Homo sapiens: one gene and its partners. The protein of the gene in region 2 interacts with the protein of the main gene of each other region in a pairwise test. Each region holds a gene or a part of one and is shown on either strand. Other genes may lie near its edges.

Region 1 (3,500 bases), on a different chromosome or scaffold from region 2:
TGGCACCTCATCTGGTATTTTCTAGCTACAGCTCTCAAGTTACTCTGAAATCACAGTAACTTTGATAGGCAGGGGTTAAAGCTTTTCATTCATTACTGTCTAAGGTCAGAGAAAGGAAATAAAAGAAGATTTAGGCTACTTGCATACTGATTACATTCTGATCCACAGCATCACACACACAAACCACGGGAGGAAAAAAGAAACAAAAAAGACGGGATCTGGGTTTTAAAGCACAAGTCTATCATAGGGCGTAAGTTCCCCAGAGAACAAACAGCCTCTAGCTGAGTTGCTGTTCCCTTACCCAGAAGTTAAACTGCAGCAGAACACTCTGCAGCAACCCCAGAAGAAAGGTTTCAACCAGACACCATCACTTTAATCTTATTCAACAAGTACGTGCTAAAGTCTTTTCCCCATAAAACGTATTGTCATCTAAGTGGGTGGCTCCAGAGCCACATACCCGACTATCTCCGAGGTTGGCAATATAAAGAATGTTGTCTACAGCCAGAACACACGTGGCAGTGGACCCATCTTTCCAGGCAGGCTTCCTGGGGGGAAACACATCAGAAACACAGTCACCACCAATAGCCCAGCACTTTGAGACTAATTTCCAGAGCTCAATGGGAAGTATCTTATATTTCAAAATGAACCATTTCCTTGATACTTGCTTTTTTTCTGTTTTAGATTTAGCTAACGGTTATAAAAGCTGAGTGCTACGCACTTTTCAGACAGTGAGCAATAGTGTTAAACCACATCAGAAGACTGAAATGCATTTAGGAAAACACCACACACAGTCCACTCAAACTTCATCATCAAGTTATACTTACTGGCTGGAAGCTTGTTTAAGGAACTCTTCATCAGTATGCTTGAAAGTGTCCAAAAGGCATCTCTTCACGGTTTTCTCTACACTGATTACATCTCCTATTACAGAAGGGCCAAAAGAAAACAATCTCTCAAGGAGGGAAGATTATCCTCCTCCCACTGTCATTTTGGTTTGTTTTTTGTTTTATTTTTTTGAGACGGAGTCTCGTTCTGTCACCAGGCTGGAATGCAGTGGCGCGATCTCAGCTCACTGCAACCTCCGCCTCCCAGGTTCAAGAGATTCTTCTGCCTTAGCCTCCTGAGTAGCTGGGAATACAGGCGCGCGCAACCATGCCAGGCTAATTTTTGTGTTTTTAGTAGAGACAGGGTTTCACCACATTGGCCAGGCTGGTCTCGAACTCCTGACCTCGTGATCCACCTGCCTCGGCCTCCCAAATGCTGGGATTACAGGCGTGGGTCACCAGGGCTGGCCATTTTGTTTTTGTAATTTCTGCACATCAATTGATTTTCAAGCATGATTAAGAACAATCCCTATTTCTTTCCTTTTTTAAATTTTTTTTTCTGAGACTGGGTCTCACTCTGTCACCCAGGCTGCAGTGCAATGGTGCAACTGTGGTTCACTGCAGCCTGAACCTCCTGGGGCTCAGAAAATCCTCCCACCACAGCCTCCTGAGCAGCTGGGACCACAGGCACATACCACCATGTCCAGTTAGGTTTGTTTTTTTTTTTTATAGAGATAGAGTCTCCCTATGTTGCCAGGCTGGTCTCAAACTCCTGGGCTTGAGTGATCTTCTGGCCTTGGCCTCCCAAAGTGCTGTGTGAGCCACCGTGCCCAGCCAGAACAATCTCTGTTTCTTTCCTCACATATAACACAGTGCTATTTGAAGTTGGTTTACTAGTTTTCCAGTAAAGGCAAGACACTAACTGAACCCAAAGACGATTGACAAAAGGTGCCTATCACTTAGAATCATGAGAAGTGCCATTCTAAGTCACACCTGCATGGCCGCTACTCCTGGAAGCCTTGGCATCCACTCCTCAGCACCACTCTTTTAAGACTCATCAATGATTCTCTGCTAAAGCCAAAATAACACATCTGACTGCTTCACACAGCCAACCAAACAGCAATAACCAATTTGAGTATCAACTGATTTAGTTCTCAGTCTCACCTTTAGGAAATTTTCTGATTAAGTTTTGATGCAAATTCTGTGCAGCAAATTTTGAGGCTCGAATTCCTCCATGTCCATCAAAAACAGCAAAATATGAAACCCGAGTACTGAAAGAACGAATTGAGAGTTAATCAAATTCTCACAGCAAAAACCACACTTTTCCATTAAAGCTTTTAAATTTCGTCTCAAAGAGTGAACATTAATAAGTCAGAGGAAGTCACACTGGTTAAGACACCAGTCACACTGTTACAAATGGGAAAAAAAAGGCTTTAACTGAGACAAATATTTAAGTAACTTTCACAGCATTTTATCTTTTTTTAAAAAAAAAATACTTGTGTGTGGGCCAGGTGTGGTGGCTCATGCCTGTAATCCCAGCGCTTTGGGAGGCCGAGGCAGGCGGATCACGAGATCAGGAGATCAAGACCATCCTGGCTAACACGGTGAAACCCCATCTCTACTAACAATACAAAAAAATTAGCCGGGCGTGGTGGCAGGCACCTACAGTCCCAGCTACTCGGGAGGCTGAGGCAGGAGAATGGCGTGAACCCAGGAGGCGGAGCTTGCAGTGAACTGAGATCGCACCACTGCACTTCAGCCGGGGTGACAGAGCGAGATTCTGTCTAAAAAAAAAAAAAACAAAAACACTGTGTGTGTGTAGGTGTGGGAGTGTTTCTGGTGAAGACTGCAAGACCTGCTAAAGGTCTAATATTCTAAAAGAGATGTAACACTTTTCCCAGTATTTTACATTAAATGTTTAAAACTCACATTTGCTTCAAAGATCAAGATCTGTTAATTCTGATTTTTCACTGACAACAAAACTAAAATTCAGAACTCCGTTCCTATTTAAATCGGATTTGGTTTTAAACATTAACAAACAGATCAAGTTATTTATCGAAAACAGTAAAAAATACAGTCATGCATCACTTAACAGAAATGCATTGTTAGGTGACTTTGTTGTGTGAACATCATAGAACATATTTACAGAAACTAACACGGCGCAGCTTACTACACACCTAAGCTACATACATGGTAGAGCCTATTGCTCCTAGGCTAAACTGCACAGCATGTTACTGCACTAAATACCATAGGCAGTTGTAACACACTGGTAGTATTTGTGTATTTAAACATACCTAAACATAGAAAAGGTACAGTAAACATGGTATTATGGCTGAACACGACAGCTCACGCCTGTTAATCCCAACACTTCGGGAGGTGGCCAAGGCAGGAGGATCACTTGAGGCCAGGAGTTCAAGACCAGCCTGGGCAACATAGCGAGACCCCCATCTCTACAAAATTTGTAATCTTATGGGAGCACCGTCATATATGCAGTCCATCACTGACTTGATGTTGTTATTCAGCACATGACTGCATAAGAGCAGGGAGGATATTACAGAATTGTTACTCAAATAAATTTTAAATATCTCATTTTTAAAACCTATCTTACTACTCTTATTCCCATTCCCCTTTCAAATTTTGCCAGAAAACCCACATATATGGAATAAAAGACATCAAATA
Region 2 (3,500 bases):
GGATAGAGCTTCATTTCTTTTGGTACTTTGTAGTAGTCTGAAAGCAGCAAGATGATAGTGAGCTGTACCAAGTTAAATCACCATTCAATAACTATGGCCTCTTCATTTTAGGGGGTCCTGAAATTACTTTGCAACCTGACATGCAGCCCACTGAGCAGGAGAGCGTGTCTTTGTGGTGCACTGCAGACAGATCTACGTTTGAGAACCTCACATGGTACAAGCTTGGCCCACAGCCTCTGCCAATCCATGTGGGAGAGTTGCCCACACCTGTTTGCAAGAACTTGGATACTCTTTGGAAATTGAATGCCACCATGTTCTCTAATAGCACAAATGACATTTTGATCATGGAGCTTAAGAATGCATCCTTGCAGGACCAAGGAGACTATGTCTGCCTTGCTCAAGACAGGAAGACCAAGAAAAGACATTGCGTGGTCAGGCAGCTCACAGTCCTAGGTAGGGAGACAATTCTGGATCATTGTGCAGAGGCAGTTGGAATGCCTTAAATGTAGTGCAATTCAGGTGCTATGCAAAGATTACTGTCCTCTAGGAGATTATGTTGTAAACTGGTGCACACTTCTTCACCGAAAGTCCTTGAGGAAGAAAGAAGCTAATAATAATGAAATGATATATCGAAAGGAGAAAATAACAAAACCTGATGATGGAGTAATTCACTAGTATATGCAAGGGATATTAGCTTGAACCAGGGAAACTTCTGCCTTATCTTGGGCATCCATTTATTTAAATAGACAAATATTTGTGGAATGCCTGCTATGAGCTAGGAGAGTGTCAGAAATTCACAGTGGTAAACATGAAGGAAAGGAGGAGAACATAGGCAACCACTGGGAAGTCACAGCACAGTGAGGTCTCTGTGTCCATGAGAACAGGAATTGTTCTCTGTTTTGCTCCCTGCTATAGCTCTAGTCATAGAGCATAGCAGCATATACTAACTGCTCAATAAGGCACCTGCTGCATGAAGAGTGGGATGATGGGCTGCGTTTAAGACCTAGAAGACTCCATGGGAAGGAAGCTACATTCACTGTCTGTACCTCTGGGTCATCCCACATGATCCAGCGTAGCCCAAGGTCAATGGGACGATCACTTCAGTGAGCAGATAGCTCTGTAAATTCCTCCATAGAGGCACTGTCTACCCCTTGTCTAACCTCATGCCTTGTGCAAAAGCTGGGCAGCCATGGCTTTGTCTGTGGGAAAATCAGGCAAATTTGGGGAGCGTCTCTTTGTGCCACTTCTCTCCATTTTCTCCTCTTGTGGTGTCCCTTTCCAATTCCTAGGATATATGTGCCCTCTGTTTTTTTTTTACTGTTAGGAAGGAAATTGCCCAAGTAAATTCATCTATACCACAGTTTTAGAGGGTAACGTCTTCATCAGAGGCCTTGGCGTATTTGAAGAGGCACCTTCTGACAGACACTAGCATAAAGTTCGCTAGTTTTAAGACTCAGGTGTCATAATAAGAGATACTTTGGGGTCAAGTCATCCCCAGCATCCTTCAAGTCACACCACATAGATCACATGGATTTTCTGTTGGCTTGTCTGGCTTCAAGGTTATGGCAGAATTGAGAAAGAGATGTGAAGTAGGCTCCTGGCCTAGCTGTGCCCAGAAAATATGTGCTCGCAGTTAGCTGCTTTGCTTCCCTAAGGACTCCTAACTTGTTTTCCTAAAACCTATTCTTAGAAATAGGCTAGAATCCAGTACATTTGCTTAGACTTCAATGTAGTACGCTGTTGAGGTAATCTCATTTTGCTAAGTGTTGACGTGGATTTTTTCAGCATGATTCCTTTTGATGTTCAGTTGGTTGGGACAAGATATTTCCACAGCACTTTGATGATCTGAAGAAAGAATAAATCTAAAGTGTTCTTGTACACTTAAACAAATACTCATGGGCTTCATTTTCTTTAAATCCAAGACTTCCCTTAGGGTATTGTTGTTTTGTTTGTGTTTTAGTGGAAATAGCACTGAACTGGTCTTTTAGCCTCACCAGATTCTGTAAACAGTTCAACTGTTTACTTAGTTGCAGGGACATGGACAAGTGGTTTAATGTCGCTGAACATCATTTATTTCATCTGTGAGATAACGCTAACAGTCCTATTCTGCTCATTACATAAGATCACTAGTGAGGAACACAAATTGTGTAAACAAGTTTTATAAGAATTGCCAAATAAATGTAAGGCATTATTGGTTGAATGATACTAAAATTTGGCACTTCCAAGAGAAATTTGAAGGGATTCTAGGGTATTATTGACTAGAATCTTCATGGGAGGGAAGTTTTCACCTGGGGAGGCTGTGTCTAATTAGAGGAAAAATCCATAAAGGTGACCCTGAACCTTTCTTTTGTGATGGGATTACCAGCTAGTATCACTAATATGAATGTTAAAAGCCATTAATCTGTTTGCAGTGTCCTGACTGACTTGTTTCATTTAACTTTACCCAGTGACCAGTGTATTTTCCCAGAAGTTAATATATCAACAAGTTCCTTTTTACTAAATTTAAACTGTTTAAAAGTTTGCTGATACCAGAACCATTTCAAAAGTTATAATTCCATGTTCTGTGATTTTCTTTTTGTGTGTCTAGAGCGTGTGGCACCCACGATCACAGGAAACCTGGAGAATCAGACGACAAGTATTGGGGAAAGCATCGAAGTCTCATGCACGGCATCTGGGAATCCCCCTCCACAGATCATGTGGTTTAAAGATAATGAGACCCTTGTAGAAGACTCAGGTAAATAGAATTTGGCTATCACTCTTGGGTTGCAGAACTTTCCCAGGGATGTTATCTAAAAAGCCATATTATTTCTTGATGTAATGTAGAAAAAAAGCAGTATTGGTGTCCATGACCTGGCTCATTTCACAGACTTAGAATTGGAGTATGGGGCCCTGTTGAATTTTCATGAAAGCCATATAGGAGATTAGTCAGCAGTAGATCCCATGTGACTCTACAGAGTTAGATAATAGAACAAGATGAAGGGCAGCATTTATATTTTCTAAATTTCCCTGAAAAACTTCACAGACTACATCATCATAAATGAGAATGATCGTTTTCTTCCTCTGTTAGGCATTGTATTGAAGGATGGGAACCGGAACCTCACTATCCGCAGAGTGAGGAAGGAGGACGAAGGCCTCTACACCTGCCAGGCATGCAGTGTTCTTGGCTGTGCAAAAGTGGAGGCATTTTTCATAATAGAAGGTCAGTGGGATAAAAAAAAATGTGGTACATATACACCATGGAATGCTATGCAGCCGTAAAAAGGAATCTGATCATGTCCTTTGCAGCTGCATGGATGGAGCTGGAAGCCATTATCCTCAGCAAACTAACACAGGAACAGAAAACCAAACGCCACACATTCTCACTTATAAGTGGGAGCTGAACAATGTGAACACATAGACACAGGGAAGGGAACAACACACACTGGGGCCTACTGTGGGTTGGGGAGAAGGAGAGCATCAGGAAAAATAGCTAATGCATGCTGGGCTTAATACCTAGGAGA
Region 3 (3,500 bases), on a different chromosome or scaffold from region 2:
GTAGAGATGGGGTTTCCCCATGTTGGCCAGGCTGGTCTCGAACTCCTGACCTCAGGTGTTCCACTCACCTCGGCCTCCCTAAGTGCTGGGATTACAGGTGTGAGCCACTGAGCCAGGCCAATCTTCTTAAACATATGTATATACTATTCTTTCAAATACAAAAATTAATTTTAAAAAAGAATGTTTTTACACATTTGAAAACAAGTAAGAGCATTATTGGATTGTTTGTAACACAAAGGATAAATGATTGAGGGGATGGATACTCTATTTTTCCATGATGTGATTATTACACATTGCATGCCTGTATCGAAATACCTAACCTACTATGTATCCACAAAAAAAAGAAAAGCTTAAAAAATAGTTTAAAAAAAATGAAAAAAAACAATGTTTTCTACAACATGGTAAAAGGCAAAGAAACTTACAAAGTTAGAAGACAAACATTTTACATGAACAGGCTGAACACAGATGACACTGTTTCTCTTTTGAATGTAGTAAAAATTAAAAGTAAATTAAATATTAAAATAAAATTTAAACCTTGGTAACTATAACAATATATTTTGTAATAAATATTCTTGATGTTGAAACATGAGCTTTATTCCTACATAATTGGATGTAATTAGCCAGAGCACATTCTGCAGCCTATGATTTTGCCTCTTGGAATAAACTGAGCAACGTGGTCTAATTAGGTTAATTCATAGACTTATCATCTTTGTCAGTGCATCTGCCAGGCATCAACAAAATATGAAACAACATGGAAAAGATAAACATAGAATAGAAAAAGCTGTTATAGTTAGTATACTTAGAATCAAAACTGTCTTATGCTCTGTGTGATCAAAATGAACAACAAAAAAAAATCAGACATTTCTAACAGCAATTATTTTACTTTAGATTTGATAATGTGTCTTTAACCCTTTTTTCTTGGTAATGCCAGCCTTTAAGAAAAAAAAGTTTTTTTAATTTTTTAGGGATGGGGTCTCACTCTGTGGGCCAGGCTGGAGTGCAAAGGCACACTGTTCACTGTAGCCTCAAACTCCTGGGCTCAAGCAATCCTCCCATCTCAGCCTCCTGAGTAGCTGGGACCACAGCCATGCACCACCATGACTGGCTAATTTTTTTTTAATTTTTTATTTTTTAGAGATTGGGTCTCACTTTGTTGCTCAGGCTGATCTCATACTTCTGGCCTCAAGCAATCCAAATGCCTTGTTCTCCCAAAGTGCTGTGATTATAGGTATAAGCCACCACACCCAGCCAAGAAAATACTTCTAAATAGAGATATAAACTTGAATAAAGCATCAAAGTAGTCAGATTATGGCAATTTTAAGTATTCACAAAGTAAATTGTACACCTAAATTACATGTATAAAAGATTTTATATCTTACTTCTGATTGCCTTAAAGAGGAAGAAAAGTTACCTGAAGTTGATGGACAAATCCAGCATTAGGATTAATACAAAATCTTCTTTCTTGAACATAAGCAAAAGCATCTCTGAAAACAGAAAAAGAGTGTTAATGTGATAGCATTATTTAATGAATTAATCATAATCATACAACTTAGCAATAGAGAGGGGTAATGAGTTGTAATGGAAAAAGCATGATGAGATTAAATATCACAATTCCTTTTCTCACCAGCTATATGCTTACGGCAGCTTGCTCAACTTCTCTAAGCTCTATTTTGTCCATTGGTAAAATGAAGAGTCTAATAACACCTACCTTGGGGAACTACTATGAATAGGAGGTAAGTGTAAAGTGGCCAGGTGCAGTGGCTCTTGCCTGTAACCCCAATCCTTTGAGAGGCCAACACAGGAGGACTGCTTGAAGCCAGGACTTTGAGACCAGCCTGGGCAATGTAGTAAGACCCCATCTCTACAAAAAACTTAAAAATTAGCCAGGCACAGTGATGTGGTATAGTCCCAGCTTCTTGAGAGGCTGAGGTGGGAGGATTACTTGAGTCCTCAAGTCTGAGACTACAGTGAGCTATGATTGTGCCACTACACTCCAGCCTGAGAAACAAAGGAAGACCCTGTCTCTAAAATAAATATATAAAATGTAAGCATTTTGTGCATATAGTACAAGTTCAAGCTCAAAATACTATCACTGGTTAAAGAGGTTTATTTACTTTTGTTATGAGGCTTAAAGTGCCTATAATAGTACTGAGCTCATAGCAGAGACCCAATAAATACAAGTTATTTCCAACATTAATGGTCTGACAAAATTCGAAATAATAAAAACAATATATAAAACATAAAGTCCATCAATACATGTTTAATCTTTTTTCAATTAAATATTTGTATTCTGGCTGGGTGCAGTGGCTCACCCCTGTAATACCAGCACCTTGGGAGGCCGAGGCAGGTGGATCACAAGGTCAAGAAATCGAGACCATCCTGGCCAACATGGTGAAACCCCATCTCTAATAAAAATACAAAAATTAGCCAGGCGTGGTGGTGTGCACCTGTAGTCTCAGCTACTAGGGAGGCTGAGGCAGGAGAATTGCTTGAATCTGGGAGGCGGGGGTTGCAGTGAGCTGAGATCGCACCACTGCACTCCAGCCTGCCAATAGAGCAAGACGCCGTCTCAAAAATAAATAAATAAATATTTGTATTCAAATAATATTCCTTTAAGAATAGATATTTTTAAGCAAAGTTATCCATTCTAATTTAGATATAAAAGGGGACTGAAATAGAAAGATGTGTCAATGATTACTATAAGATTTCTAATTTGTAGAACAAGAAAAGCTGAGAAAGGAAATACTGTACACTGGCCAGGCTTTTGCTTTGTCTTGGGGCAAGAAGCTCATTACCACCCCCTATCTTTTAAAAAATCTATACAGAATGCTTGGAAAAGATGATTTTTGATAAGAAAGACTACTCTGAATTGTAAATAGATGCTGCAAACAATTCCTAGGTAATTTTTCATCCAACTATTGTTAAAGGAGAACATGATAAATTAGCCCTTTAAATAAGGCAAGCACTAACATTTGTGGTCACGAGTTTTTATACTCATACCAACCAATTCCCTTGTGGTAGGTAAGTAGTTTTCCATAGGATTTCCATATTAGCCTATGCATATCTATACAAGTAGATAAATTAGGTTAAGACTAATCATGGAATAAGGGCCTGCCTAATCAAACATGACTACATGAAAAATAATCAGGGGAATAAGAACTTCAAACTTCCAAACTATTCCCATTAAGTTTCATTTTAATGAGAATTTAAACTGTGGCTAGGTTTTAGGGTATTTTCTTACCTGTACTTCATTCCAAATGTTTCCATAATGTATGCAATAACAAAGGCTGCACTGAAGAGGGGAAAATAATTTTAAAAACAACCAGAAAATACAGCCCATTAATTAAATGTTATAGAAAGAAAGATTATTTCTAACTTCATACCTTCTGGAGATCCCTGCATTTCCATGCACAAGAACTTTTCCTGAAAAACATGAATTCATTATTCTAATAGAAAAACACCTGAGTCAGTAGCTGAACTACATTGAAACCACAGTAAAG

What was found.
Region 1: the proteins of KDR (region 2) and ILKAP interact in a two-hybrid assay, tested with the Homo sapiens proteins (one study listed by BioGRID and IntAct).
Region 3: the proteins of KDR (region 2) and STYX interact in a two-hybrid assay, tested with the Homo sapiens proteins (one study listed by BioGRID and IntAct).

Annotation. Positions count from the first base shown.
Region 1 is NC_000002.12:238,183,196-238,186,695, forward strand, and holds part of ILKAP (integrin-linked kinase-associated serine/threonine phosphatase 2C), read right to left. Parts: intron 2,093-3,500; coding exon 1,986-2,092; intron 919-1,985; coding exon 825-918; intron 546-824; coding exon 458-545; intron 1-457. UniProt on the Homo sapiens protein: Protein phosphatase that may play a role in regulation of cell cycle progression via dephosphorylation of its substrates whose appropriate phosphorylation states might be crucial for cell proliferation.
Region 2 is NC_000004.12:55,101,596-55,105,095, reverse strand, and holds part of KDR (vascular endothelial growth factor receptor 2 precursor), read left to right. Parts: intron 1-111; coding exon 112-453; intron 454-2,587; coding exon 2,588-2,734; intron 2,735-3,067; coding exon 3,068-3,199; intron 3,200-3,500. UniProt on the Homo sapiens protein: Tyrosine-protein kinase that acts as a cell-surface receptor for VEGFA, VEGFC and VEGFD. Plays an essential role in the regulation of angiogenesis, vascular development, vascular permeability, and embryonic hematopoiesis.
Region 3 is NC_000014.9:52,757,666-52,761,165, reverse strand, and holds part of STYX (serine/threonine/tyrosine-interacting protein), read right to left. Parts: intron 3,424-3,500; coding exon 3,384-3,423; intron 3,293-3,383; coding exon 3,242-3,292; intron 1,485-3,241; coding exon 1,412-1,484; intron 1-1,411. UniProt on the Homo sapiens protein: Catalytically inactive phosphatase. Acts as a nuclear anchor for MAPK1/MAPK3 (ERK1/ERK2). Modulates cell-fate decisions and cell migration by spatiotemporal regulation of MAPK1/MAPK3 (ERK1/ERK2).